Linked DNA regions of Homo sapiens: regions 2, 3, 4, 5, 6 and 7 are each reported to be linked to region 1. The links are microRNA targets in miRTarBase. Many come from high-throughput screens and were not tested one by one. Region 1 holds a microRNA gene; each other region holds the end of a gene's coding sequence. Distances are between the middles of the regions.
Evidence for each region. Region 1 holds the annotated microRNA hsa-miR-155-5p (UUAAUGCUAAUCGUGAUAGGGGUU, at 2,099-2,122, shown strand). A microRNA usually pairs through its seed, bases 2 to 8, with sites in the 3' UTR of a target mRNA and lowers its output. Matches are read on the target gene's strand: a 7mer-m8 pairs with bases 2 to 8, a 7mer-A1 pairs with bases 2 to 7 and ends in A, and an 8mer does both.

Region 1 (4,166 bases):
TTTCTTATTACCTCATGAAAGCACCCTCTGCCCAGTGCCTTGGCTAATAGACTGGCCTTTGTTGTCTATGACCACTAATTCCCACTCAGGCATATAGCAATTCTGTTGTTGGTTGCTTAGCCCAGTCAAAAACACTGGAAGTGGACATAGACTCCACACTGATGAATGAATGACCTTCTAGTCATTCTAATGTCCTTAAAAGTCTACTATTTTTAAATTGTAGAATATATATATATATATATATATTTTTTTTTTTTTCTGGGATATTTCTCCTTTCTTCTGTTCATTAATGTTTTTCATCTATCATTGTGTTTTAAATATGACCTAAGGTTCTATAGTATATTTAGACAAACTTCTCATTTCTCTGCAGTGTTCGGAATTCATCATGCCTGTATGACAAGGTTGTGTTTGAGAACAAAAGGGGACCTGTGTGACATGTTTTATTTCAATATACATTTAGAGTTTGAACAAATAAAAAAAGCTATTAGAATTTTTAATATATATAACACATTATCAAAAACACTGTCACTTTTCTGAGTGCTCTAATCAGGCAATTCGTATGTATATTTAAAAAGAGGGAAAAAGCTAATTAGTATACTAAATATATTTATTTTAATACCTGTGCTCATATGTTATCTTTAAAGAACAGGAATAAAATTTATGGGTAGAATAGTATGCCAGCAATTTACCTTCAATACAAATTAAACACATCTTTTAAGAAAAGGGCGAGTTATATTGGCTGGGGTGGCACTAACACTACATTATTAATATGTATTTATTGAGCATTTACTGTGTCCAGGACCCTGTAAGGGGGAAAAAAAGTCCTTGTTTTTACAATCTTTATTGACTGAAATTCTGTAAAATGAATTGAATTCCTGAAGTGACATCATTTAACCCAAATTTTTTCATCATCAACTAATTCATCTCAGAAAACAGTAAAGTTTAAAAAAAAATACTATCAGTAAGAATAATATATTTCCTTGGTTTGGAAATTTCCAAACCACGATATTCTGCCCTGTCAAAATATATTCACTGGGGAATTTTTTACTTCATACGTTTCTTTTGAACTTAGTCACATTTTTATATCTAGCTGGTTTCATTATTAAATAAAAGAAAAGGTGATTCCCCTCTTGTACTGCAGGAGACCACATACTTGAATGATACTCTAACTTCTAGGTTCTGTTATAGTAACACTGAAATCAGAAACCTGTGGGAGAAATGTCACTTTATCTGAGAGAGTAAAATCAGACTCTAAAAGGAAGTAGCAAATTCATCTTGTTCTTTTTTTTAATCAACCCTCTGCCTAAGACAAGTAGTTTGAAACACAGAGGACTCTTTAAGTCATACTTCCTTTATGTAGTCAAAACCAAAGCCACTGGGTAGTGCTTTCCCCAAAGGAATCTCTAAATAGTAGACGGGGACATTTTCAGATAGATTCGTTTGTAGGCAAACCTCCATTGCTTGTATCACATTTCCTGAAAGAATAAAGGTAAAACTTCAACTATGTATTACAGAAAGAAAAATTCAGCCTGAACCCTACCCTTATAAAACAGGTTAATTGGGTTTTAATTTTCATAAATCATAAAGGACTATTTTGAACATTTGGGCCTTTAATTGTCTAGCTCCTAGATGAAGTACAAATCAGAAAAAAAAAAAACTGTACTGTGTCAGAATGCAAGCTTTCCTCTTTGCATTTTGGCATTTGAAAACTCCGAAGAGCGGTTTTTGTTTTTTATTTAAAGAAGATGATACATATGTGTACCCGATTCAAAACTAGAGAATAGAATTTAAAACATAATTTTCAAAGTCTTCAAATATGCCTAAAGGTAACAATGTCATCTTTTAATTGCCAATTTCTCTACCACTTTCAAAAAATTACTTCCAAGGATTTAATGAGCTCCTTCCTTTCAACAGAAAATGGACTATTTTCCTTTCAGATTTACTATATGCTGTCACTCCAGCTTTATAACCGCATGTGCATACACAAACATTTCTTTCTCTCTTGCAGGTGGCACAAACCAGGAAGGGGAAATCTGTGGTTTAAATTCTTTATGCCTCATCCTCTGAGTGCTGAAGGCTTGCTGTAGGCTGTATGCTGTTAATGCTAATCGTGATAGGGGTTTTTGCCTCCAACTGACTCCTACATATTAGCATTAACAGTGTATGATGCCTGTTACTAGCATTCACATGGAACAAATTGCTGCCGTGGGAGGATGACAAAGAAGCATGAGTCACCCTGCTGGATAAACTTAGACTTCAGGCTTTATCATTTTTCAATCTGTTAATCATAATCTGGTCACTGGGATGTTCAACCTTAAACTAAGTTTTGAAAGTAAGGTTATTTAAAAGATTTATCAGTAGTATCCTAAATGCAAACATTTTCATTTAAATGTCAAGCCCATGTTTGTTTTTATCATTAACAGAAAATATATTCATGTCATTCTTAATTGCAGGTTTTGGCTTGTTCATTATAATGTTCATAAACACCTTTGATTCAACTGTTAGAAATGTGGGCTAAACACAAATTTCTATAATATTTTTGTAGTTAAAAATTAGAAGGACTACTAACCTCCAGTTATATCATGGATTGTCTGGCAACGTTTTTTAAAAGATTTAGAAACTGGTACTTTCCCCCAGGTAACGATTTTCTGTTCAGGCAACTTCAGTTTAAAATTAATACTTTTATTTGACTCTTAAAGGGAAACTGAAAGGCTATGAAGCTGAATTTTTTTAATGAAATATTTTTAACAGTTAGCAGGGTAAATAACATCTGACAGCTAATGAGATATTTTTTCCATACAAGATAAAAAGATTTAATCAAAAAATTTCATATTTGAAATGAAGTCCCAAATCTAGGTTCAAGTTCAATAGCTTAGCCACATAATACGGTTGTGCGAGCAGAGAATCTACCTTTCCACTTCTAAGCCTGTTTCTTCCTCCATATGGGGATAATACTTTACAAGGTTGTTGTGAGGCTTAGATGAGATAGAGAATTATTCCATAAGATAATCAAGTGCTACATTAATGTTATAGTTAGATTAATCCAAGAACTAGTCACCCTACTTTATTAGAGAAGAGAAAAGCTAATGATTTGATTTGCAGAATATTTAAGGTTTGGATTTCTATGCAGTTTTTCTAAATAACCATCACTTACAAATATGTAACCAAACGTAATTGTTAGTATATTTAATGTAAACTTGTTTTAACAACTCTTCTCAACATTTTGTCCAGGTTATTCACTGTAACCAAATAAATCTCATGAGTCTTTAGTTGATTTAAAATAATTTTTATGGCCCATTTTCTTTTGCAAAGTACAAATTATAATTCCAGAAGCTATCTGCCAAAAAAAGACAATGGAAGAAAATTATGAGGACACTAAAGGGAACATTCCTGACTCCTAGGACACAGTATTCTCATGTAAGAATACCCATTTGGCTTTGCCCCACTTTCTGTTCAAGTTGTATGTGCTGCCAAGACAAATTTCTTCTCCTCACTTTCTGTTCAAGTTGTATGTGCTGCCAACACAAATTTCTTCTCCTAACACCTGGAATGAGCTTGTGGCTCCACGGAGCTCCCATGTAGGTAGAACACATTCAAGAGTGTTTCTTCAGGCCAGGCACAGTGGCTCACGCCTATAATTCCAACACTTTGGGAGGCCAAGGCGGGTGGTTCACTTGAGGTCAGGAGTTCTACACTACCCTGGCCAACATAGTGAAACCTCGTCTCTACTAAAAATACAAAAATTAGCTAGGCATGGTGGTGCGTGCCTGTAATCCCAGATACTCAGGAGGCTGGGGCAGAAGAATCACTTGAACCCAGGAGGTGGAGTTCACAGTGAACGAAGATCGTGCCACTGCCCTCCAGCCTGGGTGACAGAGTGAGACTCCATCTCAAAAAAAAAAAAAAGTGTCTGTTCAATTCATTTTATCTGCCACTGTATATCTACAAGAGGACTCCTTGCTTTGAGTCCCAGTTCTTCAAAATCCTGCTTGCTGCCTAAAGACACAAAGTCATAGAACATTAGGACTGGAATAAACTATTGTAGTATAACCTTCCTGCTGTTACAATAAAAAGCTATAAACATTACAAAGGCACTTAAAGAAAAGCTGTGCTGGGAAATGCCTTATTTGAAGAGCATTTGGGTACACTCACATGAAGCTTTGGAA
Region 2 (4,166 bases), not on the chromosome of region 1:
TCTTCAAAAAAAGAAATTAAAAAAAAAATCCTGAGTGCGGTGGCTCACACCTGTAATCCCAGCACTTTGTGAGGCCGAGGGGGCGCCGATCACTTGAGGTCAGGAGTTTGAGGCCAGCCTGGCCAACATGGTGAAACCCCATCTCTATACTAAGAATACAAAAATTAGCCTGGCGTGGTGGCGCACGCCTGTAATCTCAGCTACTTGGAAGGCTGAGAATTGCTTGAACCTGGAAGGTGGAGATCGCAGTGAGCCGAGATTGCACCACCGCGCTCCAGCTTGGATAGAGCGAGACTCTGTCTGAAAAAAAAAAAAAAAAAAAACAAGCCCAAGACTTTGGGAAAAGTTTGCATGTGGGTGCACCAGATATCCGGCCAAGATAGACAAGCCAAGTAGTGGCCTTTGAGCAAAAAAATGCATGTGTGAAAGGTCTTTGGGCCCTTTTACCACCAAGATTTTCCCCTCAAAATCCCACCGTCCCACTCCTCACACTGCTACCTGGTAGGTTGCTTGGCCGTGTTTTTTGTGAAGTTCCCAGAATTGTATATACCTCAAGGCTTCGTGCACCTTTATGTTTGTGACACTTCAGTATGAAGTTCACAGGGACTTGGTGTATAATGGAGACTTGGGGGTGGGGATGGCAGCCCTGGGATTTGTGTCACCAATGAGGTCAGGTCAGTTCCGCAATAAATGTGACCTTGGCGTGTGGGATACTTTGGTAAACATCTCTTAGCTCTTGATATTCCAGGGTCACCTCCTGATTGGGCTGGCGTCTCCTGGCTTAATGTGGCTGCTCTTCAAAGTCACCCCTGCAATGTCTTTAGGGAAAAGCCCTCTAGACTTGACTTGTCCAACAGTTGCCACTGGCCACATACATGTGTGGCTGCTAAGCAACTGAAGTGTGGCAGGACTGAGGAACTGATTCTAATTTTATTGAATTTGTAAGATGTTTAAGTAAACGGTATATAGAACGTTCTAGTCATTGCAGAAAGTTCTCCTGGACTGGCAGGGCTGCCCCTAGCCTGTTTTCAGCGCTTCAACTGTTTCAGTGGGAAGGGAAAGCAACTCTTAGCTTGACACTTTTTTGTGAGACACAGCCTCGCTCTGTCACCCAGGCTGGAGTGCAGTGGTGGGATCTTTGCTCACTGCAACCTCTGCCTCCCATGTTCAAGTGATTCTCCTGCCTCAGCCTCCTGAGTAAATGGGACTACAGGTACGTGCACCACGCCTGGCTTTTTGTTTTAATAGAGACGGGGTTTCACCATGTTGGCCAGGCTGGTCTGAAACTCCTGACCTCAGGTGATCTGCCCGCCTTGGCCTCCCAAAGTGCTGGGATTACAGGTGTGAGCCACTGCGTCTGGCCCAGTTTGACTTTTGGATACTGTGTTTTAGTTTTTTTTTCTTGATACAGGGTCTCACTTTGTCACCCAGGTTGGAGTGCAGTGGCACAAACACAGCTTGCTACTGCCTCCACCTCTTGGGCTCAATTGATCCTCCTGCCTCAGTCCCATAAATAGCTGGCCCTACAGGTGTACGCTGCATTCTCCGGCTGAATTTTTAAATTTTGTAGAGATGGGGTTTCACAATGTTGTCTAGGCTGGTCTCAAACTCCTGAGCTCAAGGGATCTACCCACCTTGGCCTCCCAAAGTACTGGGATTACATGCCTGAGCCACTGCTCCTGGTCTATATACAGTGTTTCCACTTTAGAACATTTTGTAACAAAGCAGCAATACATTGTTTTAAGCCTGAGCAATTACTTTATAATAAAACCAGTTATTTTAAAGAAAGTTACAAAGTAAAAGCAGCTTTAGTAGCCTGCAAATAAAGCCAAGGCAGGAAATGGGTCCTCTCTACAGTGGGGCTAGTCCTGGGCAGGACCTTGAGCTCCGGTTTGGCCAGCCTTCAGGACGCCCAGCCCGTTCTAGCAGGGAAGGAGTGATAAGGAATTAAGAGGCCAGACCCTGGGTTGGCCCCTTGGCCCCAGAGCCAAGGTCTGCTGAAAAAGCCAGGGACCCTGAAGAAAGGCAGAATTAGGAGCCAGACCCTGCCTCTCCCCACCGCTACTTTGACTCCAACCTTCATCAAAAAATGATCCCCAAGGCCACTGTGCTTGGGTCTCTGGTTTTTTGGACCCCGAGTCTGGGTAGAAGTTCTCCAACCCACTTATGGCTGAGGAAGGGAGACTTACGTTTCCCTTGCAGGGCACTTGCCTCCTGCCCATCCCACCCTCTCACCTTGATTGAATTTGGAAGGATGCCCAGCTCCCCACTCCACCCCCAAAACCAGCAGAACCCTCAAACAGAGTCACAGGACCGCTCCCCTGAGGTTTAGCATCAGTCTTTAATGCTGTCGCACTTCATTGACTAGTCACACACTTTGGTCTCATGTTGGCAGTGGCAACTTACAATGAGTCTAAAGGTCTGAGCACTGGACTGGCCTCCAGGGAACAGACATTTGTTCCAACTCCCCTTCCCTCCCCAAGATTTCTTCAGAATTCCATTATGGCCCTATACAGAGAGCACTGGCTGCCGGGGACAGGTTTTGAGTGTACACCAACTATACATGGAATTATAAAAACATATTTACAGACGTTCCACAGTGCTCCTGTAATCAGAAGCAAAGACCCTTTTATCAAAAGGGATTGTATCTAGGGCTGTGCAAAATTCAAAAGGATCAGATCCCTTTGAAAGAGTCCATAGTCCATGAAACAAAAAATTACCTGGGCCACTGGTAAGCCCCACGTGTGCCAAGATTGCCTTACAGAAATGTAAAGAGTGTGACCCACAAAGTGAGGACATTCAGCTTCACTGGAGCCAGAGGTCAGGAAGGCCCCTTGCTGAGGCCAGGCTCCCAGACCATCAAGGGAGAGGTGGCTGCACTTGCTGGAGTCACTCACTGGAGGCTGGCTCCCTTGGTCCTGCTGGAACGAGAGGTATTGCTTGTGGACGCCAACCAGGCAGTTCTGCAGGAATAGTTTAGGTTCTCAATTTGAGATGGCCAAAGAGAAGACAGAATTCTCCAGGAGAAGAGCAAGACATGGGAGACAAATACAGAATAAAGCACAAACTGATCACACAACAGAAAAGGAGGAGTGTACAGGGTCTGGGAATCAAGACTGCAGGTTGACATTATCTACCAGCCAGAAGCAAAAAGACACAGAGGGATCAAGTCCATCTGCTGGTCTGCCTCTCACCCCTGGCCAGGGACTGGAGGTGGATGTGGGCCCATCCCGGGAGGGCTGCCAGACCCAGTGGGGCAGACTGGAATGCCTTTTCCTGCTGTTCCCACCACCTGATGCCCTATAGCTCGAAAAACCACTGAAGTCTAGTGTGCGACTTTGAAAGATTGTAATATATGCTCTGGAAAACATTCAGCAGTACGAAAGCCCTCCCTGGGCCCTCCCACCCTCTCATGGTCCACAACTGGTAGAAAGGTCCAGAAATCCTTGAGCTCTGGAAAGGTCCCTGGTCAGTCCTTGGGGAGCTCAGATAGCTATATTGGAAGAACCTGCTCAAGTACGGTTCTTGATGTCTGGGGAATCCTTTCGGGGAAGATCACTTCAAACTCAATAATGAGGTCCCCACGTTTCTCGGGTGTTTTGGGGAGGGGGAGGCCTTCTCCAGGAACTTTTCGCCGCATGCCAGGCCTGATAACATCTTTGAATACGACGGGTATCGTCCTGCCGTCCAGAGTGGGGACGTTCACTGTGCAGCCACACAGAGCCTTGAAAAGCAAAAGGACAGCATTAGATGGAAGCTGGCTCAAGAGGCTCAGCTCTTGCCCAGAGGCCGTCTGCCATAGATAAGACCCATCAGGCCTCTGCAGCTAAGACCTGGCCCCCAAATCTACACGTCCCCACCACGAAAGCTCCACAACAGCGCCCTGGTCAGTCCTGTTCACTGTTGTGCCCCAAGCCTGGCACGCACCACACACCCCAACACATTGGTTCAGCAAATACTAAACTGCTTCAAAAAGCAGCCATCGCCCTCTACAGACACCGCCCCACCTGGCACCTTACCTCCCGGAGGCTGATCCTGGCAGGATAAATGACATCAGAGCCATCTCTCTTAAAGATATTGTGGGGCTTGTCCTTTAAAACAAAGACGATATCAGCTGGAATGTTGTTGGAGGTCTGGTCTCCTTCCTTGGGGAAAGTGATTTTGGT
Region 3 (4,166 bases), 11 Mb from region 1:
GCATGGTGGTTCATGCCTGTAATCCCAGCACTCTGAGGTGGGCAGAATGCTTGATTGAGCCCAGGAGTTTGAGACCAGCCTGGGCAATATAGTGAAACCCCATTGCTACAAATAATAATAATAAAAATTAACCGGGCATGGTGGTGTGGGCCTGTGCTTCCAGCTACTCAGGAGGCTGAGGTGGGAGAATTGCGTGAACCCTGGAGAGCAGTGGTGCCATCGCAGCTCACTGCAGCCTTGACCTCCTGGGCTCAGGTGATCCCCCACCTCACCCTCTTGAGAAGCTGAGACTACAGGTGTCGTCACCAAGCCCGGCTAATATTTTGTGTTTTTAGTAGAGTCAGGGTTTCACCATGTTGGCCAGGCTGGTCTCGAACTCCTGGGCTCCAGCGATCTCCCTCCTCGGCTTCACAAATGCTGGGAATACAGGCATGGGCAAGTGCACCTGACTCATAAAAGTGAATTATTAAAGTAAATTGAGTTCTCTAGGGGAGGTTTTGCTTTTCCTTTTGTTTAATTGTATATTATTCTACGGAGATTTGATTTTGATATTTTACTTTTTAAGGTCTACATGAATCTTAACTTGTAATGCTCATCTAATAAGTTACATATTTGTATTTGCAGCCTCAAACTCCGATCTCTTCGAGTTAACGTAGGACAACTGCTGGCTATGATTGTGCCTGATCTTGATCTTCAGCAAGTGAATTACGATGTTGATGTAGTTGATGAGATTTTAGGACAAGTTGTTGAACAAATGAGTGAAATCAGTAGTACTTAAAGTATATGTTATGTAAGATAAAATATTTGCTCAATTCTTTTGGTTGTACAGCTTTCAAAATATAATTAATTTTGTTTTATAGATATGATAGGCAACAGACTGAAAACCATAATCTTTACTGTATTCTATGCATTCAAATGTGGTCACAAATATTGTGGACACATTATCTTATGTTTTGAAATACCTGTGAATTGTTGGCATTGAGCAGCTGAAGCTAACTCATGACTCTGTTTTGAATGTAAATATTTGTAATTAAGCCTGCACATATTTTTTTATTGCCCTAGAGTACTCAAGTGTTTTTCACCAAGAGCTTTTCAGGTTGCCCCTAAGCTTTGTGCAATTTTTTCTGGTTCCCCAAAGTGTATTTTTCTCTAAGTCGAGGGCTATGCCATAATACAAATGGAAATGTTACCTTTGATTTTCTTATAAAGGAGTTTAAATAGGATTTTTAAATAATGTAGTAACACTCCTGATACAACTCTGGTTATAAGTGAATTGAGCATTAATGTTTCTTTTGTATAAATTCCTGTCCTGAAATATTTTATTCATGAAAATAAGGTAAGCAAAAACCAACTCCATTTTGCCAGGATTTTGTTGTGCTGAGATTGCCAATCACGGTTAAACACAAAGTGTTTTTATAGAATGAAGAAACAGTCTTTAACAGAAAAAAGGTATTGAAATATTAAATGGCCACCAAGTTTACTTTGAAGCCCATTTTTGGCTGTTTAGTCAGCATGAAGTGGGCATGATAATTTTTTAATATTTCTTTTTGTGAAATTTCCTGTACAGCCTTTTGTAGGATTACTACAGGTTAATGTGAGTTGAGGAAGACAGTCTTTCTCAAACAATACTACATACCTTTTATTATATTACAAACCTAAGTGTTTTATATCCTAGAGTCAAGGAACAAATTTCCTTAGGATTATAGTATTACATGCCATAAAATACTATGCTTTATTGGTCCCATGTTTTGTGCAATTTTAAAGAGATGGCTTTCTATTAAGTATAAACTATGTATATATAAGAACCATATTTTCCACAACTAAAATGTGCATTATTTTTTCCAAAGTTTTATCATTGCTATTTATTTTTACCTTTGTTTTTGAACATTCAATCCGTTCATTTTGTATGTATGCTTAATACGTGTCGGTCATATACAGTATTGAATTTTTACTGTATAGTAATTCTGGAAAGAGCAAATAAATGAAGATTGTTTTTATTTGCCTGATAAAGTAATTGAAAGTGTATTTTTGGTATGAAGCTGGTTTTCTGTCACAATTGTAATTTCCCAAATTTTAAAATATCTTATAATAAAATAAAAATATATGATGGCTAACTGTTCAAATGCTACTTTTAAAGACTTAATATTAACCTCAAATTATTTTAAAACTAAAAATGTATTCATTAGACCCTCAACTTGAGCTCATTTTAACTACTTTAATTGCAGTTTATTTTTTGAAGACTGTTTCCATTAAGACTGAGGCTGAGCTCCTCTTTCCTCAGAGCATGTATATTCTGTTTTCAAAAGCTTTTTCTCAGCCTGGCGCAGTGGCTCACGCCTGTAATCCCAGCACTTTGGGAGGCCGAGGCGGGCGGATCACCTGAGGTCGGGAGTTCAAGACCAGCCTGACTAACATGGAGAAATGCCGTCTCTGCTAAAAATACAAAATTAGCCGGGTGTGGTGATGCATGCCTGTAATCCCAGCTACTCAGGAGGCTGAGGCAGGAGAATCACTTGAACCTGGGAGGTGGAGGTTGCAGCGAGCCGAGATCACACCATTGCACTCCAGCCTGGGCAACAAGAGCGAAACTCCGTCTCAAAAAAAAAGGACTTTTCTTTGTATAAATCATTTACTCTAGAGAAACCTTGCCTAAATAATAGCAGCTATGTAAATCATATGTAAGTTTTGTGAATATCTAACTCATGCAGTGGTTCTTTTTGGAATTTGCTATTTTTCCCTTCCTTTTGGCCAGCTTCTCTATGTATTCTTGCAAAAATATTTCCTGTAGCTGTCTGGCTTGATGGGAAAATTAATCATGGGATTAGTAAGAGAAACTTGCTTGCTAAATTGATTCTTTGGAAGCACTTAGATACTTTTTGCTCTTTATGAAGATATTGAAGTATTGCCAAGATATGAGACTTCGAAAATGTGGCTCACAGTTGCAGACAGAACAACTGTTGTTTAACAGAACAACGTGGGCTTTCATGATGTATGTACCTTTCTCTTTCTTTTGTTGCATGTGGGGGACAGTATTGCTTCAACTAATGTTTATTACTTTAAAACACGAAAGGTATGAGGAAGTAAACCAAAACAGTCCACAGTCTTCAAACAGGACCTAGGGTGGCAAAATCAGTGAAAGCTGAGTGAGCACACAGAGCAGGAGGGCATGGCACGTCCCTGTGTGCTTCCTTTGGGCCTCAAATTCTTCATGTGGCAGGTCCAGTTGGTGACGCTGCCTGTGATCTCAGACGCTTGATTCTTGCTGTCACATGAGACGTCTTAAACTTGGGTCATACATCATTGAGGAATCATTTAAGTTCTCACCTCTGGCTGCGTAGTAGAATTACTTGGGGAGTTTTTTAAACTCCCAAAGTCAGGCTGCACCTCACGTTAATTAAGTCAGCGTCCTTGGGGTTAGACCCAGATAACAGTATTTTTCAAGGCCTCCCGGGTTAATTCCAGTGCACCATCAGAGCCAAGCACTGTTGAGTTGTGTCTTCTGTTGAGTATTTATAAATGTTGAACTTGAGTGGTTCACGAAACAAACGGGATCAGCATATCCACTTTCTCACTGGGGCAAGCAGGGGGAGGGAGGGGAAGCAGAGCGGTGCCCCGGTAGAGATGTAAATGAACAGTGAAAAGACTTTCTCCACGGCCTCTAAAGGTAACCACTATTGGCTTTTGTGTGCATACATGCACACATTCATGTGTATGTATTTTATTTACATTAAATTGCGTATATTTGTGTCGATATTTACACAGTGGGATTATACCATATAATTGATAACTAAACATTTCCATATCATTCTTTCAAAAAGCTTAAGTAACATTTCATCATAGGAATATGCTCCTAATGGTTACTTACTTACTTACTTTTCGTTAGAAAGAATATACTGGCTGGGCGCAGTGGCTCGTGCCTGTAATCCCAGCACTTTGGGAGGCCAAGGTGGGTGGATCATGAGGTCAGGAGATCGAGACCATCCTGGCCAACATGGTAAAACCCCATCTCTACTAAAAATACAAAAATTAGCTGGGCGTGGTGGTGGGCTCCTGTAATCCCAGCTACTTGGGAGGCTGAGGCAGGAGAATCACTTAACCCCAGGAGGCAGAGGTTGCAGTGAGCCGAGATCACACCACTGCACTCCAGACTGGTGACAGAGCGAGAC
Region 4 (4,166 bases), not on the chromosome of region 1:
CTTACTCACAAGGGCTGACCATGATGGCCCTGCTCTGCATGAGGACTCACAGGACAGCCAGGGCACTGATGCCTGCAGGACTGCATGGCCGACAAGATGATGCACATTTTAATATTCAAAATGTAAACAAAGTATCCACAAATAGTCCAAAAAAGCCAAAGAATGGCTTTACTTAAAAATTTTTAAATGCCCTTAAAAGTGACTTTTTGCATAATGCTTTCTTAAAAAAAGAACTCTCACAAAAACATTTTTACCAAACATGCCTAGATCACTTCAGAACTGAAATCCTCAGATGAAACAGGTGAACACTTCTGTGACCTGCTACATCTCAGAAGCTTCTCATAGGAAGCTTTGAGTTTACCCAACAGCATCTGTCTGGGGCCTGTGAGCAGAGTACCTCAGAGCCTGAGGCACTGAGATCTTCAGGCTGTCCTTGGAGCTCTGGGTAGTTTGCAAAATGAGAAAGAGGAACTATCAGTAGGGATAAAGACACAGAACAAGGAAATCCATAACCCTGTCTCAAGCCTCCTCAGAACCAGGAAAATACTAAAGATCCTGAAGAGACTAAGATGATAGGAATGATCCCAAACATTTAGAATCTGAAAGGCAACTAAAATGAGGAGAGATGAATATTACGGTACTATAGTACTACATGTCTACTACAGTATCCATTAGTCCTGGGTGTCTCCAAAAATCAAGAAAGGGTTGGGGTTTCCCTTTCTACTGACCAGGTTCAGCTCAAGTTCTGTATGCTCCTGGGGCTTTTACCCCATACACCAAAACATCAACTGTTTTTATATATGTACATATGTGTACACATGCACATACACTCCTCCAAAATAAGTGAGAGTCTATGGTGGTTTAAAAAGAGAGAGAGAGAGAGGAGAGAGAGAGAGGCAGGCAGGCACTGGGCAAGAGTCAAAGTTTTTCCTATTCATCTTTGCCAGTCTATCAAATCTGCTGCTTCAGGTCAGGTCATGAACAAAAGAAAAGGGAAAGATGCCACTGGAGATTATAAAAGTCTGAAGAGAAGACAGTCTGGAAAGTCCTTGACAGTTCACTGCGCACCTCCCCTGGACACTGCTCAGCTATGTAAATAACCCAGGAACACCCAATTCTGGGAGTCTGAAAAGGCTGGCACAAACTCCTTGGCATGGTTGAATGACAGATATTCTGTAGAAGATGTTTATTTAGGCAGGTAAATTAAATGATAAAAAAAGTAATTATAAAAAGGCAGAAAGACTTTCCTCTGCTCTTGAAAATTTTTTTTCCCCACAGTATTAGTGGGTTTTGTCCCATCTTTGTTGTTATTTAATGCAGTGAGTGAACATTAAACACAGTGGAGGGGAGAAGAGGGAACAGTCCAAAACTTTGGTCCTGCTTGTACCTCTTAGTGTGTGGGATGTCATCATCGTAAGGGGTTACCACAAGTGGATGCCACTCTCTTAACTTCCAGGCAAACCCTCTCCCCACCCTGCCATAAGTTCCTGCCCTTCCCCATCATATTGGTGGTGGAACTGCTTCAAGAAGGCAGGGTATTCTACATGGAAGAGCTCTGGAAATCCATAACCCTGTCTCAAGCCTCCTCACATTGGTTCATACCACCTAACAAAACACTTTACAACACACAAATATCCAGGAATCACAAAACTGAGTGGATGAGATACTTGAACATTCAAGGAGACTACTGAGCAACAGCACAGGGTACACATAATCACTGCACCATAGAGACGCTTTTAGCAAGTGGTTTCTGTCCAACCTGCTTCCTGGCAGGGATGTCAGACCCAGCCTTGGCTTCCACACAACTTCACAGCTCCTCTTAAGACCCAGTGGCCCCAGTCTACCTTTTCTGCATCTTTTGGGTCGCCCTGCCATCTGCCCCCACCAAACTCTGGCCTCTGACATCATGCTGACAGTCTGTGCATTTGTATTTTCCTCAGTGCTGTGATAAGCCAAAAACCTGTCTCCAGTCTATACTCAGTCAATCCTCAGTAACGTGGACATCAACGAAAGCAAATCTGCAAGCCTCTTCAGTTTCAATGAGATGCAGAGGTGTTTCATGCTAGACTAAATCTGTTTTCTGTAAGAAGCTACAAGAGGCTTGTTTATGACAGGCGCTGCTGCGTTAAGGATCTCCACAACAGTAGCAAAACGACAGCATCCTAAATGGAGTCACTGTGGGCACTTGCCCCTGGCTGAGGCCTCCCCTGTGGCCTTCAGCCTCTACTAGGAGCTTCCACTCTGGGCAACTCACATATACTTCCTGGCTGTGGTTGAGATACTGGCAAACAATGTTCTGGGATTTCAGTCTCACAGAGAAATCAGCTTTCAGTCACGCTGTGACCTAATGGGAGCCTTTAGGGGTGTCTCTGAGGAAAAAGTTACTAATGCATAATTTGGCAGGAGCTGGTGATTGGAAGTCTCCATTTAAACAACTACAGCCACCATCAACATATTGTACAGATTCCTATCAACACCCAACACTTTCATTTCTGGTGTCTGTGTTTTCCAGTTGCAACTCTACTCCTTCTTAAAAAGAATAAATCAAAATTACCCTACAACATGAACAAGACACTAAGACAGTGACAATATTATGTACATAAATACTGTGTACAAACTTTAGAGAAATGACAAACCTTCCAGGAAAAGGAAAAAAAAGTGTTAACAGTGATAATACCAAAAATAAAACGTTGCATTCAATGGATGTTAAACATATGTAACAATTCAAATATAATCTATGAAATTTAAAAAAATAGGCAGCATGGGGACAACAGCATGGGGAAGGAAAATAAACTGGAAGAAAATATGGCCATTAAACTCAGAAGGCCCAAAGAATTATTCAAGTAATGGAAGGGTTAAAACCCTACATACATATTCATTTTACAAGAACACACTGACTTTCGATTGCTGCTTTTCAAACATGTCACTGTTGTTTTCAGTTGGGAGGACACTGCAGAGCACATTTTTCTGGCAGGGAGAGCCAAGATGCCCATCTGTGTGGATCCCACCAACCCAGCAGTTTCTGGGCAGCAGCCTCTCCACCCCCAACTTTATGTCTTCCTCCTCTTATCATGCTTTCCTCTACAGAAGACCACTTGGATTTCATTTGGGGTCCTGTTTTAATTTCAAAAATAATTTTCTTGGGAAAAAAACTATATGATAAATTTGCAGAGCCGGCCATTATCATGTCTTACTGTAACGATACACTCTGGAACACCGGAAGACCCTCTTTTAAAGCAAAGCGGAACCTGCCTCCTTCAGGAACTCTAAAGGGCTGCGGCTGGATGAAGGCTGAGAGCCCTCTGACTTCTGGCTGACCTTTAGCCCATTCGATGCCTCAGGTCTGGAAACCAAACCATCATCACAAAGGCAGGGGAACATCTCCAATCCCCAGCTTTATCTCCACCCCTCCGAATCTGCTTCCTTCCCTCAATTAAGAAACCATGCCTTTTCTCAGAGGGCAAAATGAGAAGCAGGTGGCAGCTGACTGAAAAACAGCAATTTGCCTTTGATAAAGGTGTTCTCTGAAAATGACTTTTTTGAGGTTTGATTTTTTTAAATAAAAAATGATAAACGGTCTTGCCATCCAGATCAATCTCTCTTTCCCCTTACATATACACACACATACACACTGAAAAACACCCAAACCCTGCATGCACCAGAAACAGTAAAATGACCAAAATATTATAAAATTAACCAATAAAGTGCATGTTCCTTACATATTACACCTGCCCCTTTTACAAACATTTCTTCTAGAAAGTCACATGTGTAGGCTCAGAATCACATGGTATTATAGAAGGGGTTGGTTGTCCGTTTTTTGTCATTTGCCTTTTTCAGTCTCCTAAGGGGGTGAGTTCTGCCGTGTTGCTGACGGGGTGCCACGGCCAGCCCTGGAGCTGGGCATGCACACTGCAGTCCCTGGGTCTGTAGCACGGGAAGGCCTCCTTCAGAACTAGTCAATTCAAGTCCTGCCCTGGGGAGCAAATACTGCTGACTAGAACCAAATTCTTTGGCATACTGCACAAGGGGCCTCTCCACTGGCTTGCTCTGCACAATACACTCTGTTGTTGTGAGTTGTTCTACAAAAGACTTGGTGGGCTCTGGGTTGTGGGGGGCACCTGGGTTTTCTAGGGACTCTTGGTCCTCCATCGCGTGCATGCCTGAGT
Region 5 (4,000 bases), not on the chromosome of region 1:
ACATCACTTGGCGTGCCAGGCATACCCACTCCCTCTCTGGGCCTCCTCTGGCCTCCCTGCCTCCGCCATCCTTTTCCTCCCACCATTCAGTGCTCCTGTCTCCACTGTGGCCAGGTTCTGTGAGTCTGTGCCATCTTAGCCACCACTCTGAAGGGTGGTCTCTGCCTGTCTGCCCCTCAGCCCCTAGAGCCGCTCCTATGTTCCCCTCTCCCCACCTTGACCTCACTGTCCTAAAGACAGGCAGGGACCAGGCTGCCTCCACAGCCACCCTATCCTTGGCACAGCCAGGACTCTCAAGGCTTTATTGGAGCTTGGTGCCAGCTCCTGCCCATAGGGCAGCCCCGTGCCACATCTCACCAAGCCCCAGCTGCTGTTCTCTTGTCTGATTTCCTCCAACCTCCCGCAGACCAGTTCAAGGAGCTGATCCTCACACTGTGCGATCTCATCCGCCGAGGCCAGCTCACAGCCCCTGCCTGCTCCCAGGTCCCGCTGCAGGACTACCAGTCTGCCTTGGAAGCCTCCATGAAGCCCTTCATATCTTCAAAGCAGATTCTCACCATGTGATCATCCCAAAAGAGCTGGAGTGACATGGGAGGGGAGGCGGATCTGAGGGGCTGGGTGCAGGCCCCTCAGTTGGGGCTCCCACCTTCCCCAGACTACTGTTCTCCTCACTGCCTCTTCCTATTAGGAGGATGGTGAAGCCAGCCACGGTTTTCCCCAGGGCCAGCCTTAAGGTATCTAATAAAGTCTGAACTCTCCCTTCCAAAAAGTAGAAGTCATCCCTGTCGAGAAGGACCAACACTGTGCACTGGTCAGCTCACAGCACCAAGAGGCCCCCTTCCTGCTTTTCTGTCATGTGTTCCCCCAGTAATCATTTTCTGACCACCCTGAAAGCAAAGCCTGGGTGGGTACTGGCAGTGCAAAGGCCAGTAGGCCACCATCCCTGGCCCCAAGCTGCACAAGCCCACAGACGAGGGTCCTGTAGAACAAACGCTTTGATGTGCTTCTCAGGTAGCCTGCGGCCCAGTCCAGGGCTTGGGGAGGATCAGCTGCATGGAAGAGTGAATGCCAGGCTGAGGTCATCAGGGCCCTGAGGAACTTGGACGTGGGGTCTTCACTCTCATGGAACTGCCCTTCTAACTGGAGACATAGACAATATACCAGTGGTTCTCAACCAGAGGCAATTTTACCCCCAGGAGACATTTGACAATGTCTGGGGATATTTCTGGCTATCACAGCTTATGAAGGAGGTTGCTACTGGCATCTAGCAGGCAGAGTGAGTGCTGCTGTTAAACCCACCACAGGACACAGAACAGTCTACTGCAACAAAGAATTACCCAAGGCCTGGCGCGGTGGCTCACACCTGTAATCCCAGCACTTTGGGAAGCCAAGGCAAGCGGATCACTTGAGCCCAGGAGTTCAAGGTCAACCTAGGTAACGTGGTGAAACACCATCTCTACAAAAAATACAAACATTAGCCAGGTATGGTGCTGTGCACCTGTAGTCCCAGCTACTCGGGAGGTTGAGGTGGGAGGATCACCTGAGCCTGGGAGGTCTAGACTGCAGTGAGCCATGATCATGCCACTGCATTCCAGCCTAGGCAACAGAGCAAGACCCTATATCAAAAAAAAAAAAAAAATCTAGCCCCAAATGTTCAATGTTCATGAGGTCGTTGATAAACCGTGCATTAAACAATCTCACAGTAATTACCATAGTGACTAATGCTGTAAAGAAGATATGTGGGGTGCTGTAAGAGCAGAATAAAGATCTTGCCCTAGGCCCCAGGGACAGGGGTATGCTTCCTTGAGGTGAAGTTTGAAGGTGGGCTCTCACAAATGAGTGAGCTTTATTCAGGCCGAGAGAAGAGCTTGACGTGACTTTTTGGTATTTGCTTCACGATTCATTTGCTCAAAGCAAAGAACAGAGGCTTCAGGGTGTCTCCCTTATCACCTGGCCCTCTGTACCCTGCACTCAGGAGCCTCATTCAGGACGTATTTATTGAGTGCCTAGTGTGTGCCCAAAGCTAAGGATACCAATGAAAGAAGTGCTGCTGGCCCTCAGGTTGCTTAGCCTAGTGCAAGATTGACCAGTATAGTATAATGATGAGGTCACTGACATGGAGGTGTTCAGAGGGCCTTGAGAGGACACACAGGGGCCCCAGTTCTGCCCGAGGGCATCAAGGAAGGATTCCTAGAGGAAGTGTCTCCCACAGCCAGTCTTGAAAACCGAGCAGGAAACTGCGTACCAAGCAAAGCCAACAGCACATGAGAGTTTAGAGGCCTGAGAGCCTGGCACTCAGGGAACTGCAGTCAAGTGTAGCTGCTGCCTTAGACGTGGGGGAAATGTGGGAACTGAGGTGGGAGACATGGGTGAGGTACAGATCACAAAGGACCATGATGTCAGGGCTTACCCTGAAGCCCTAGGGAGGCACCAAGGGATTTTAGGCAGTGGAGCAATATGGAAAAAACTGGCTCGGAATGTTTGTTTTTTTTTTTGAGACGAAGTCTCACACTGTTGCCCTTGCTGGTGTGCAGTGGGCGATCTTGGCTCGCTGCAGCCTCAACCTCCTGGGTTCAAGCGATTCTCCTTCCTCAGCCTCCCGAGTGGCTGGGACTACAGGTGTATGCCACCACACCTGGCTAATTTTTGTATTTTTAGTAGAGATGGGGTTTCACTATGTTGGCCAGGCTGGTCTTGAACTCCTGACCTCGTGATCCACCCACCTCGGCCTCCCAAAGTGCTGGGTTTACAGGCGTAAGCCACCACACCCGGCCAGAAGGTTTAATTGCATGCCAGTTTGAACATGGACTCCCAGCATAATCATCTTTTCTTTGGAAGCATCTTTTATGTCCGCTGGAAAAAAGGACTCAGCTTCAGCCTGGGGCTGGGAAAGGTCTGCATTGCCCTCTGGGGAATATTTGCCACCTTCTGGGCTCAAGATCAGCCCCAACTCTTTCCTGGTCCCTGTCCTCTAGGTTAGTGGGACAAGTGATTGTACAGATGATCAGTGCAGGCAAGTGAAAAAAGCCTTAGAAGGAGGGAAGGCTGCCAGAGGCCACAGGAGTAAAATTAAGATTAGGTTCTTTAGGCCAGGTGAGGTGTCTCACACCTATAATTAGACAGGCGTGCTGGTACATGCCTGTAGTCCCAGCTACTCAGGAGGCTGAGGCAGGACAGTCACTTGAACCTGGGAGGCGGAGGTTGCAGTGAGCTGAGATCACGCCACTGCACTTCAGCCTGGGCAAGAGAGAGAGACTCTGTCTCAAAAAAAAAAATAGGATTCTTCAAGGGGAATCCATAAGGTTGGGGTTTAGGGAGAGTGGTGAGCCTGAGTCCTGGTGAAGGAGCAGGCCCCTGGTGCCCACTCTAAGAGCAGGCATACAGGAATGTTTGTAACACCACGCTTCAAGATCTGGAGGAACGTGCAGAATGCCTGAGAACAGTGAAGGCAATGATTCCTTGTACCTTTAGGGGTCTGGAGGTGACATTTGGGCTGGTCTTCAAAGGATGATTATAATTTATTCAGGGAAGGGTGACAAGCATTACAGACGAAGAGAGCAGATTAGGCAGTTACAGAGACAGGGTATTTATGTTAGAACTGTCTCATTTTCTCCATTCTCTTCCTGAGAATTAAAACCTACAACTTTTAGGTGGGTACATGGCAGGCCGGAATAAACACTGTTTCTCTGCATCCCTTGCAGCTAACAAGATCTGCCCCCGCAAGTGATGTAAGCAGAGGTGTTAGGCGTCAGTTTCTTAGGAACCTCTTTTTTTTTTTTTTTTTTTTATTTGGAGAGATGATGGAGTCTTGCTCTGTCACCTACGTTGGAGTGCAGTGGTGCAATCTCGGCTCACTGCAATTTCCACCTCCCAGGTCCAAGTGATTCTCCTGCCTCAGCCTCCCGAGTAGCTGGGATTACCTGCCACCACGCCCAGCTAGTTTTTGTTATTTTTAATAGAAACAGCGTTTCACCATGTTGGACAGGCTGGTCTCGAACTC
Region 6 (4,166 bases), not on the chromosome of region 1:
TGAGCCTTGTCTACCTGTACCGTGAGGCCCAGGCCCGGAGCCCCGAGAAGTAAGTGCTGCCTTGGAGGAGGTGATGTCCCTGCAGCTGAGAATAGCAGGAGGATGACTCCACAGACTTCAGCAGGAGAGGCTGGGGGTTGTCCAGGGTGTCCAGGGAGGGGCACTAGGCCAGGCAGAGCCCTAGCTCTGTGCCAGGGCAGCAGGAAGCCACACAGTGTGTGTGAGCCGGAGCAGGAGAGGGGGCCCTGACTCCCATGTGTCCTTGCAGGCAGGAGCAGTTCGTGGACTTGTACAAGGAGTTTGAGCCAAGCCTGGTCAACAGCACCGTCTACATCATGGCCATGGCCATGCAGATGGCCACCTTCGCCATCAATTACAAAGTAAGGCCTGGGCCCTGCCCAAACATTCACTGTCTGCCCACCCAGCCCCACCCCATGAAGCCATCTGTCCCTCATCCCCACAGGGCCCGCCCTTCATGGAGAGCCTGCCCGAGAACAAGCCCCTGGTGTGGAGTCTGGCAGTTTCACTCCTGGCCATCATTGGCCTGCTCCTCGGCTCCTCGCCCGACTTCAACAGCCAGTTTGGCCTCGTGGACATCCCTGTGGAGGTCAGTGGCCCTGTGGAGGTGACCCTGGGGCTCAGCTTGATGGGTCCCTCCTATGGCAGTGACCCTGAGCTGGGCTGCAGGTCTCCAGCTCACCATCCCTCCCTGCCCCGACAGTTCAAGCTGGTCATTGCCCAGGTCCTGCTCCTGGACTTCTGCCTGGCGCTCCTGGCCGACCGCGTCCTGCAGTTCTTCCTGGGGACCCCGAAGCTGAAAGTGCCTTCCTGAGATGGCAGTGCTGGTACCCACTGCCCACCCTGGCTGCCGCTGGGCGGGAACCCCAACAGGGCCCCGGGAGGGAACCCTGCCCCCAACCCCCCACAGCAAGGCTGTACAGTCTCGCCCTTGGAAGACTGAGCTGGGACCCCCACAGCCATCCGCTGGCTTGGCCAGCAGAACCAGCCCCAAGCCAGCACCTTTGGTAAATAAAGCAGCATCTGAGATTTTAAAAAGCCCTGCCTCCACCTCGTCTGTGCCACACGGTGTTTGCTGGGGGCTCGGGGACAGAGGGTCACTGAGGAAGGTCCCAGCACCCTCCCCACAGGCGTGTGATGTTGGTGAAACCCTCTGGCACTTTCAGCACTTGAACATGGACTTGTCCCTGCCCAGAGAATTCAGTGCATATTTTCTAGTTTAACAAGCACCCCCATATTTCTGAGGTCTCTTTCACATTTTAACAACTCAGGTGCTGAGAGAAGCCTTAGGATGTGTGATATTTTTTTCTTTCCCATAATACATAACAGCATGCCTTTCTCTCGGGTGGTGTCTGAGACTTGAGGAATATGATCTGCATCATTACAAGTATTGACTCTGTCCGGTGGCTCAAGCCTGTAATCCCAGCACTTTGGGAGGCCAAGGCGGGCCCATCACAAGGTCAGGAGATCGAGACCATCCTGGCTAACACAGTGAAACCCCATCTCTACTAAAAATACAAAAAATTAGCCAGGCATGGTGGCGAGTGCCTGTAGTCCCAGTTACTCGGGAGGCTGAGGCAGGAGAATGGCGTGAACCCAGGAGGTGGAGCTTGCAGTGAGCCGAGATAACGCCACTGCACTCCAGCCTGGGCAACAGAGCGAGACTCCAACTCAAAAGAAAAACAAACAAGTACTGACTCTGTCATGCTCTTTGGGGGCCTGCGCTGCTCTACCATCTCATGTCACAGTCAGGGAGCTCTGGCTGAGCATCAGCCAGGATGTGACCTGGAAACCTGGCTTGGCTCTTAGGTTGATAGTGTTATTCCTTTCAATGGACTCACTCATCACAACTCAAGAACTGCAGAGTAGGCAGCACGGAGCCAGTCAGAGAATCCTTGCCTCCTTAACAGCCAAAGCCTTTGGACACAAAGTTATAAACATACTTTAAAGTCTATTTCCAGCCCCAAAATTCCACTGTGCTGGGGGTGGGAGCATTTTTATAACAGGCGGCTTGTGGCAACCCCAGAGCTGGTGCTTTTGGACAAACCTCCACTCCCTACCTAAAAGGGCTGCTCCCTGGTGTGCTGTAATTGGGGCCTTGAGCCTGATCCAGCTTTGAGGGTCACGGAAGGGGCGTCCCCCAGGCCAGGGGTTCTCCAGCCCGAGTATTAGAATTTTGGTTGGAATCGGACAGAATATCAGGCCTCCACCAGGGGGCGCCATGGCTCCAGCGAGGCCCAGGTGGTTTCAGGGCTCCGAGAGACAACCTGGGCAAGGGGATCACCAGGGTCGCGGGTTGTGGGAGCTCCTGGGAGAGGCCCCCCGGGACAGGTGGACTCTGCAACCATTCAGGGAGGAGGGGGCTGGGGCTCCGTGGGATTTGGGGTAGCACAAAGATCTGAGAGGGAACCTATGGCCCAGATGAAGTCTTAGGATGCCCAGGTCAGGGGCACTGCAGCCTCGAGTGGTCGCTCAGGGGGCCCTGGCCCGACCCAGTTTCAAGCGGCTCAGGTAGAGAAGGGCACTATCAAGGCTTCCGGGCTACGGGGGCGTGGTCTGATGCGGGGGCGTGGCCTCCGCTGGGCAGGGCGACGCGGAACCGAGGCGGCGGCGGCGGCTGCGGCGGCAGGAAATCGGGGCTCGGCCCCGCCGGCGCGCGACCCCATCCCCATCCCGGTCCCTGCAGAGCGATCCCCGGGCCCAGATATGGACGCAGCAGAGCCGGGTAGGGGGTCGGGGATCCGGGAGGGGCCTCCCCCGACCATCCCCTGCTTCCTACATTGAGGGCACACACTTGTCCCGCTCCGTCCTGAGAGCCAGGAGAGGAGTTCCTGAATGGGAAGGACCCAGGGATCCTCCATTGTGGGGAGCCCTGTGCCCGGATGGGTTCAGGACCCCAGCCCTTCACTCCCCCTCCCCCTTTTGATCCCTCACCCCAGACGCCTGGGGGAGGGGGCCCAGGAAGGGGAAGTGACTGCTTCTGCTTCTGATTTTTGTGATGGGGGCAGGGTGCCACGACTGCTGAGGGAGAGGGCAACGCGGTAGGATCCCCACAGGGCCCCTCTGTAGCCCTGGGGAGTCGGCAGTGCTGGTCTAGGCCCCTTAGGAGAGGGGGCAGGGGGGCAGCAGTAGAAATGTGGCGGGGTCCGACTTGGTGTTTCCGGCCGTCTTTGTGTCTGTGTTGTGTATGTGGAGTGTCATTCGGTCTTTATGTCCCTCACGGCTTCAGTCTCTCCATGTGTGTTTCTGCCCCAGGCTCTGCCTGGCTGTCCCTTGTGTATTTCCATCTGTCTAGCCCGTGGTTCCATTGTCAGACCGGCTTTCTTCTCGGGACAGCCTGGTTGCATCTGGGGCATCTGTTTTGTTGGTTTGCTTCTGGGTGCAGGCAGACCCAGGGAGTGGGTGTCTCTGTTCCCCGAGCAGCTGTCTCTGGTCTCTGGTGGTGTGTGAGTCCATCTGCCTGCCTCGAGTTGGCCCCAACCAAGCCCCCCCCAGCCCTCTCTTTCTCTCTCTCACTCTTCCCTTTCTCTTCCACCCCCTCCAAATGAGACTGGTTGAGGTGCCGTGGGTGGAGGGAGGCAGTGGTTAGCCCATGTATTACACTCCCCTCCCCTAGGACTCCCCCCAGGTCCTGAGGGCAGGAAGAGGTACAGTGACATCTTCCGGAGCCTGGACAACCTCGAAATCTCACTGGGGAACGTGTGAGTCTGAGCCTGGATCACCCCCAAATCCTGCCAAGATGCCCCAAGCCCCTAACCATTTAGGTGCCTTGCAGTCCCATTTGGAACCTGTAACATCTGGACCTACATACCTAATAACCAGAGAAGTCTAGGATGGGACCCTCCAAAATGCCTCGGTATCCTAAAAGTGTCCCCCTAAATAGACTGGAAATCCCCAAAGTGGTCCTAGAACCCCTACATATCCTTGTAACCCCTTAAAATATTTGCGATCCCTATAATCCCACTCTATGAACCTCAAAGTTATCTGGGGCCCTTCAGATGCTTTTTCAAGTCCTATTTAAAAAAAACTCACCTGATTCCCCCAAAACACCATTCTTCAGACCTCCCAGACACAAGAGATGCCACAGAGGTGATGTTTGCCACAAACAACCCTAAGGTCCCCAGCACCCCTTGGCAGGACAGACTGGG
Region 7 (4,166 bases), not on the chromosome of region 1:
GGCCGCTCCTACGCCTCCGCTTCCTGCTGAAAGATCCCTTTGTCAAGCCACAGGGCCCTGCACACCGTCCAATGGACCCACACCACATGCCCCGCCTCTGGCCTCCTCACCTGCCCTCCCCCTGCTCATGCTTCGGGTCTGGGTTTGGGCGTGTTTTCTCTGGACCTTTCCTGAAAACCAAAGTTAGTCTGCCCCCACCCTGGCCCCCCACCGTCAGCGACCTGTGTGTGGCCACCGCTCCTGGACTCTCTCCTCCCCGACCCCCAGTGCCTGACACCTGCCAGGCACACAGGGTCGGTCAGCATATCCCCAGAGGACCAGGTGATGAAAAGCCCAGAAAGCAAACACTCAGACGCATGGGACCTCCTGGGTGTGGAGCTTGTGGGTATTATCTTTTCATTTTTTTTTTGAAACGGAGTCGCGCTCTGTCGCCCACGCTGGAGTGCAGTGGTGCAATCGCGGCTCACTGCAACCTCCGCCTCCCGGGTTCAAGCGATTCTCGTGCCTCAGCCTCCCGAGTAACTGGGATTACAGATACCTGCCACCACGCCCAGATGTTTGTGTTTTTAGTAGATACAGGGTTTCACCATGTTGGCCAGTCTGGTGTTGAACTCCTGACCTCAGGTGATCCGCCTGCCTCAGCCTCCCAAAGTGCTGGGATTATAGGCATGAGCCAATGTGCCCAGCCATTGGTGTTATTTTATTTCGATGTTTTTGTGGTTTTCTTTTTTCTTTTTTTTTTTGAGACGGAGTCTCCTTCAGCCACTGAGGCTGGAGTGCAATGGCGTGATCTCGGCTCACTGCAACCACCGTCTCCTGGGTTCAAGCAATTCTCCCGTCTCAGCCTCCGGAGTAGCTGGGACTACAGGCACCCACCATCATGCCCAGCCAGTTTTTGTATTTTAGGAGAGACAGGGTTTCACCATGTTGGCCAGGCTCGTCTTGAACTCCTGACCTCAGGTGATCCACCCGCCTCGGCCTCCCAAAGTGCTAGGATTACAGGTGTGAGCCAGCGCACCTGGCTTTTTTTTTAAAATCATTAATACAAAATAGAAAACTACACTTAGTTATTTTTCATAAGAGACAGCAGTTTGCGAAGGGCCACCCAGCTGGCCACACACCCTACCCCTTCTTCCCCTGCTTCTCCCCAGGGCTCACATCTGCCGGTGCTGGGTGCCAGCTCTGTTTTTTAGACAGGTTCTCGCTCTGTCACCCAGGCTGGAGTGCAGTGGTGCAATCACAGCTTGCTGCTGCCTCAACCTCCTGGATTCAAGTGATCCTCCTGCCTCAGCCTCCGGAGTAGCTGGAGCTACAGGTGTGTACCACCACGCCTGGCTAATTAAAGAAATTTTTTTGCAGAGATGGGGTCTCACTATGTTGCCCAAGCTGATCTCCCACTCTTGGCCTCAAGCGATCCTCCAGCCTCAGCCTCCCAAAGTGCTGGGATGACAGGTGTGAGCCACCGCGCCCTTCCCTGAGGCTCAGCTTCTGCAGTGCTGTCACCCACACACTAATTTAGGAAGCAGGTTAGAGGGAGTCCAGGAGCCCAGCTACCCCAGGGGTTTCTAGTTAGGGGCTTCCAGCAGTGCCAAGGGTTGGTTCTGCACACCTGGGCCAGTGAAAAGGCTGCCCAACAGCCCCACGCACCCTGGCTCCCCCCAGACCCTTCCAGTCCTGGGTGCAGCCTCCTCCCAACCCTGTGCTCTGACACAGATGTGGGCCAATTATGTGTGCAGGCACACACACACACACACACACGTGCACGCCAGAGAGCAGGCACACACACCCACACATACACGCCGGAGAGCAGGCACACGCACCCACACACGTACATGCACCCACACATGCACGCCGGAGAGCAAGCACACGCACCCACACGCACACGCACCCACACATACACGCCGGAGAGCAGGCACACGCACCCACACACACGTACATGCACCCATACATGCACGCCGGAGAGCAGGCACACGCACCCACACCCACACGTACCCACACGTGCACGCCAGAGAGCAGGCACACGCACCCACACGCACATGCACCCACACGTACCCGCACCCACACGTACCCGCACCCACACGTGCACGCCAGAGAGCAGGCACATGCACCCACACGTACCCGCACCCACACACACACACCCCCACACGTACACGCACCCACACGTGCACGCCAGAGAGCCTCCTGCCTCCACGGCCCCGCCTCCCACAGTGCTCAGCAGTGTGTGCTCCCCACTCAGGGCCTCATCAGCCACAAGGATCCCTGTGCAGGGCCTGGCTCCATCCAGGGCCACCCAAGGGAGCTCCAAGTCCGTGCTCCCACCACAAAGCGGAGCAAGAAGCCAACGGGCCAGCGCGCTGGTGAGGATGGACAAAAGCAATGCTTTTAAAGTTTTCAGACTTTATTTCACAGCGATTGACACAGAAACATACTAGAGTTAGTAACACGGCACCCAGCCCCACCGCCGCCCGCTTCATCGGGTCCTGCTCCTAGGAGGACTGGGCTGGGGCTGGGGGTGGGGATGGGATGGGGGTGGGGAAGGGACGGGACGTTGCAGTTTAAGGCATTTCTGGCTTCGGAGCCATCCCTGCCACCTCTGCACCTGCCCCTTGACCTTGGTCAGACACTGGCTGGCCCCTGGTCATTCTGAGACAAGGACGACTTTCACTGACGCTGTGGGGAGGATTTGCAGTGAGGCAGCCCTCAGCCGCTCTCAGGCGAGATGGGAAAGATGAGACCCACCACTCCAGGGGTCAAATAAAATCAACACATGAAGAACACAGCCATGGCCAGGCCCAGATACCCAGGCAGGCGGCAGAGGTCAACCCCATCCCACAGTGAGCTCCTCTCGATAGCCCCTCGCAGGGCCTGGGGTGTGGCAGAGGGATACGGTCACGTCCAGGGTGGCTGGGCAGGGCCAGCTGAGGGTCAGGACACCCAGATCGGCCCTGGTCTGGCCTCTGCTCCTCAGCAGCCTGGGGCTGGCGCAGGCAGCACGGGAGCAACGCAGAGCTGTGCCCAGCAGTAACATTGTTTGGAAGTCACAGTATTGGCGCAGGAGGCCGAGGCAGGGCCCAGAGCACACACAGGAAGGAGCAGCTCAAATGGGGGCTTGGAAAGGCCCTGTGGGGTCACCCGGAGGAAGGGCCCCATCAGACCTCAGCAGCCCCTTCCTCTCTGGGACACGAGTCCCGCCTGACGGAGCGAGGGTGATTCAGGAGCCGGGGCTGCTTCCCGGCGGGGACACCGTGGGGCAGGCGCAGTGCAAGGCGGGGGCTCAGCACCTTGAGGCAGGGGTGTGTGTCCTGAGGCTGCCATCCACGCCGAGCCCTCCACGCTGCCACCTCGCCTGTCCATCCCTCGGCACTAGGTCTGTCTGCAGCACGGCTGCCTGGACGGAAGGGAGGCCGGGCCAGCAGTCCCTCCGGCCAACACTCAGGCAAGAAAATCATATCAAAAAGCAACAAGTTTACAAAAATAGAAAATAATTACAGCGGGCGCGGGGCTCTGGTGCCAGCTCATGGGGTGGGGCAGGGCCGCAGCTCTGGCTTGGTGACGGCGTCCTCCAGCAGGTGCAGCGGGTGCCGGCCCACCACCACGTCCCGCAAGCAGCCCACAAAGCCTGTGCCGTAGGCCTTGGGCAGTGCTGGGCCCACGGGCAGCTCCGGCAGGCCCCCTGCAGCACAGACAGTGGGAGTCACCCGGCTGTGACTCAGTGATGCTGATGGGCACCCCAACGAGCAGGTGACCAGCAGGGGGCCCACACCTGGGCACCCGCCTCCCGGCCCCACAGCACTGGGAACTGCAGGGGCTACAGCGGGAGAAGAGAGCCCAGCCCGCCGGCTCACATGCACCCTGACTCAAGGGTGGGCGCTGGGGGGTGGAGTCTGTCCCTCGGATATCATGAGACCCTTGGGCATCCCTCTCTAGTCTCCCCAAAACACTCACCAAGCCACAGGGCTCCATCAGTGTCCAGCTGCGTGGCGCCCAGCGGGGAGGAGCCGGTCACAGGGGCCTCATTGCCCACCTGCAGGGAACCTTCCCTCTGCTCCCTGGGTGTGCAGGGAGGGGGAGACCATCAGGGCCCAGAGTTCCCTCTGCCTCCTCTAGACCATAAGCCCTGCATCCTTCCTATGCCCTGCAGGTGCCTCAGCCTGGAGAACCCCCGA

Region 2: miRTarBase lists DNAJB1 as a target of hsa-miR-155-5p. Seed matches in the 3' UTR shown: 8mer at 2,342-2,349.
Region 3: miRTarBase lists MORC3 as a target of hsa-miR-155-5p. Seed matches in the 3' UTR shown: 8mer at 1,277-1,284.
Region 4: the mRNA of SSH2 is a reported target of hsa-miR-155-5p. Seed matches in the 3' UTR shown: 7mer-A1 at 1,312-1,318 and 7mer-m8 at 212-218.
Region 5: miRTarBase lists MECR as a target of hsa-miR-155-5p. Seed matches in the 3' UTR shown: 7mer-A1 at 1,685-1,691.
Region 6: miRTarBase lists ATP13A1 as a target of hsa-miR-155-5p. The part of its 3' UTR that is shown has no 7-base or 8-base seed match.
Region 7: the mRNA of AGRN is a reported target of hsa-miR-155-5p. The part of its 3' UTR that is shown has no 7-base or 8-base seed match.

What each region holds. Positions count from the first base shown.
Region 1 is chr21:25,571,885-25,576,050 of GRCh38, forward strand. It overlaps MIR155 (microRNA 155), which reads left to right and starts at 2,096; the gene lies at 2,096-2,160. It overlaps MIR155HG (MIR155 host gene), which reads left to right. Exons shown (of 3, transcript NR_001458.3): 3 at 2,009-3,284. RefSeq lists a silencer at 2,040-2,219 and an enhancer at 3,771-3,920.
Region 2 is chr19:14,512,447-14,516,612 of GRCh38, forward strand. DNAJB1 (DnaJ heat shock protein family (Hsp40) member B1) reads right to left here. Exons shown (of 3, transcript NM_006145.3): 2 at 4,020-4,166; 3 at 2,323-3,724. The coding sequence ends at 3,494. Among named protein-coding and RNA genes, the nearest start is that of DNAJB1, 3.9 kb to the right of the region's middle.
Region 3 is chr21:36,374,519-36,378,684 of GRCh38, forward strand. MORC3 (MORC family CW-type zinc finger 3) reads left to right here. Exons shown (of 17, transcript NM_015358.3): 17 at 625-2,114. The coding sequence ends at 778. Among named protein-coding and RNA genes, the nearest start is that of CHAF1B, 8.8 kb to the right of the region's middle.
Region 4 is chr17:29,627,061-29,631,226 of GRCh38, forward strand. It overlaps SSH2 (slingshot protein phosphatase 2), which reads right to left. Exons shown (of 16, transcript NM_001282129.2): 16 at 1-4,166. The coding sequence ends at 3,781. Among named protein-coding and RNA genes, the nearest start is that of CORO6, 6.2 kb to the left of the region's middle.
Region 5 is chr1:29,190,586-29,194,585 of GRCh38, reverse strand. It overlaps MECR (mitochondrial trans-2-enoyl-CoA reductase), which reads left to right. Exons shown (of 10, transcript NM_016011.5): 10 at 407-1,929. The coding sequence ends at 564. Among named protein-coding and RNA genes, the nearest start is that of SRSF4, 11 kb to the right of the region's middle.
Region 6 is chr19:19,642,088-19,646,253 of GRCh38, reverse strand. ATP13A1 (ATPase 13A1) reads left to right here. Exons shown (of 26, transcript NM_020410.3): 23 at 1-49; 24 at 269-380; 25 at 464-607; 26 at 722-1,056. The coding sequence ends at 832. GMIP (GEM interacting protein) reads left to right here and starts at 2,597. Exons shown (of 21, transcript NM_016573.4): 1 at 2,597-2,743; 2 at 3,635-3,719. The coding sequence starts at 2,725. RefSeq lists a silencer at 2,504-2,753 and enhancers at 3,384-3,543, 2,765-3,720.
Region 7 is chr1:1,054,331-1,058,496 of GRCh38, reverse strand. AGRN (agrin) reads right to left here. Exons shown (of 36, transcript NM_198576.4): 35 at 3,946-4,049; 36 at 2,381-3,673. The coding sequence ends at 3,516. Among named protein-coding and RNA genes, the nearest start is that of RNF223, 18 kb to the left of the region's middle. RefSeq lists a silencer at 3,880-4,062.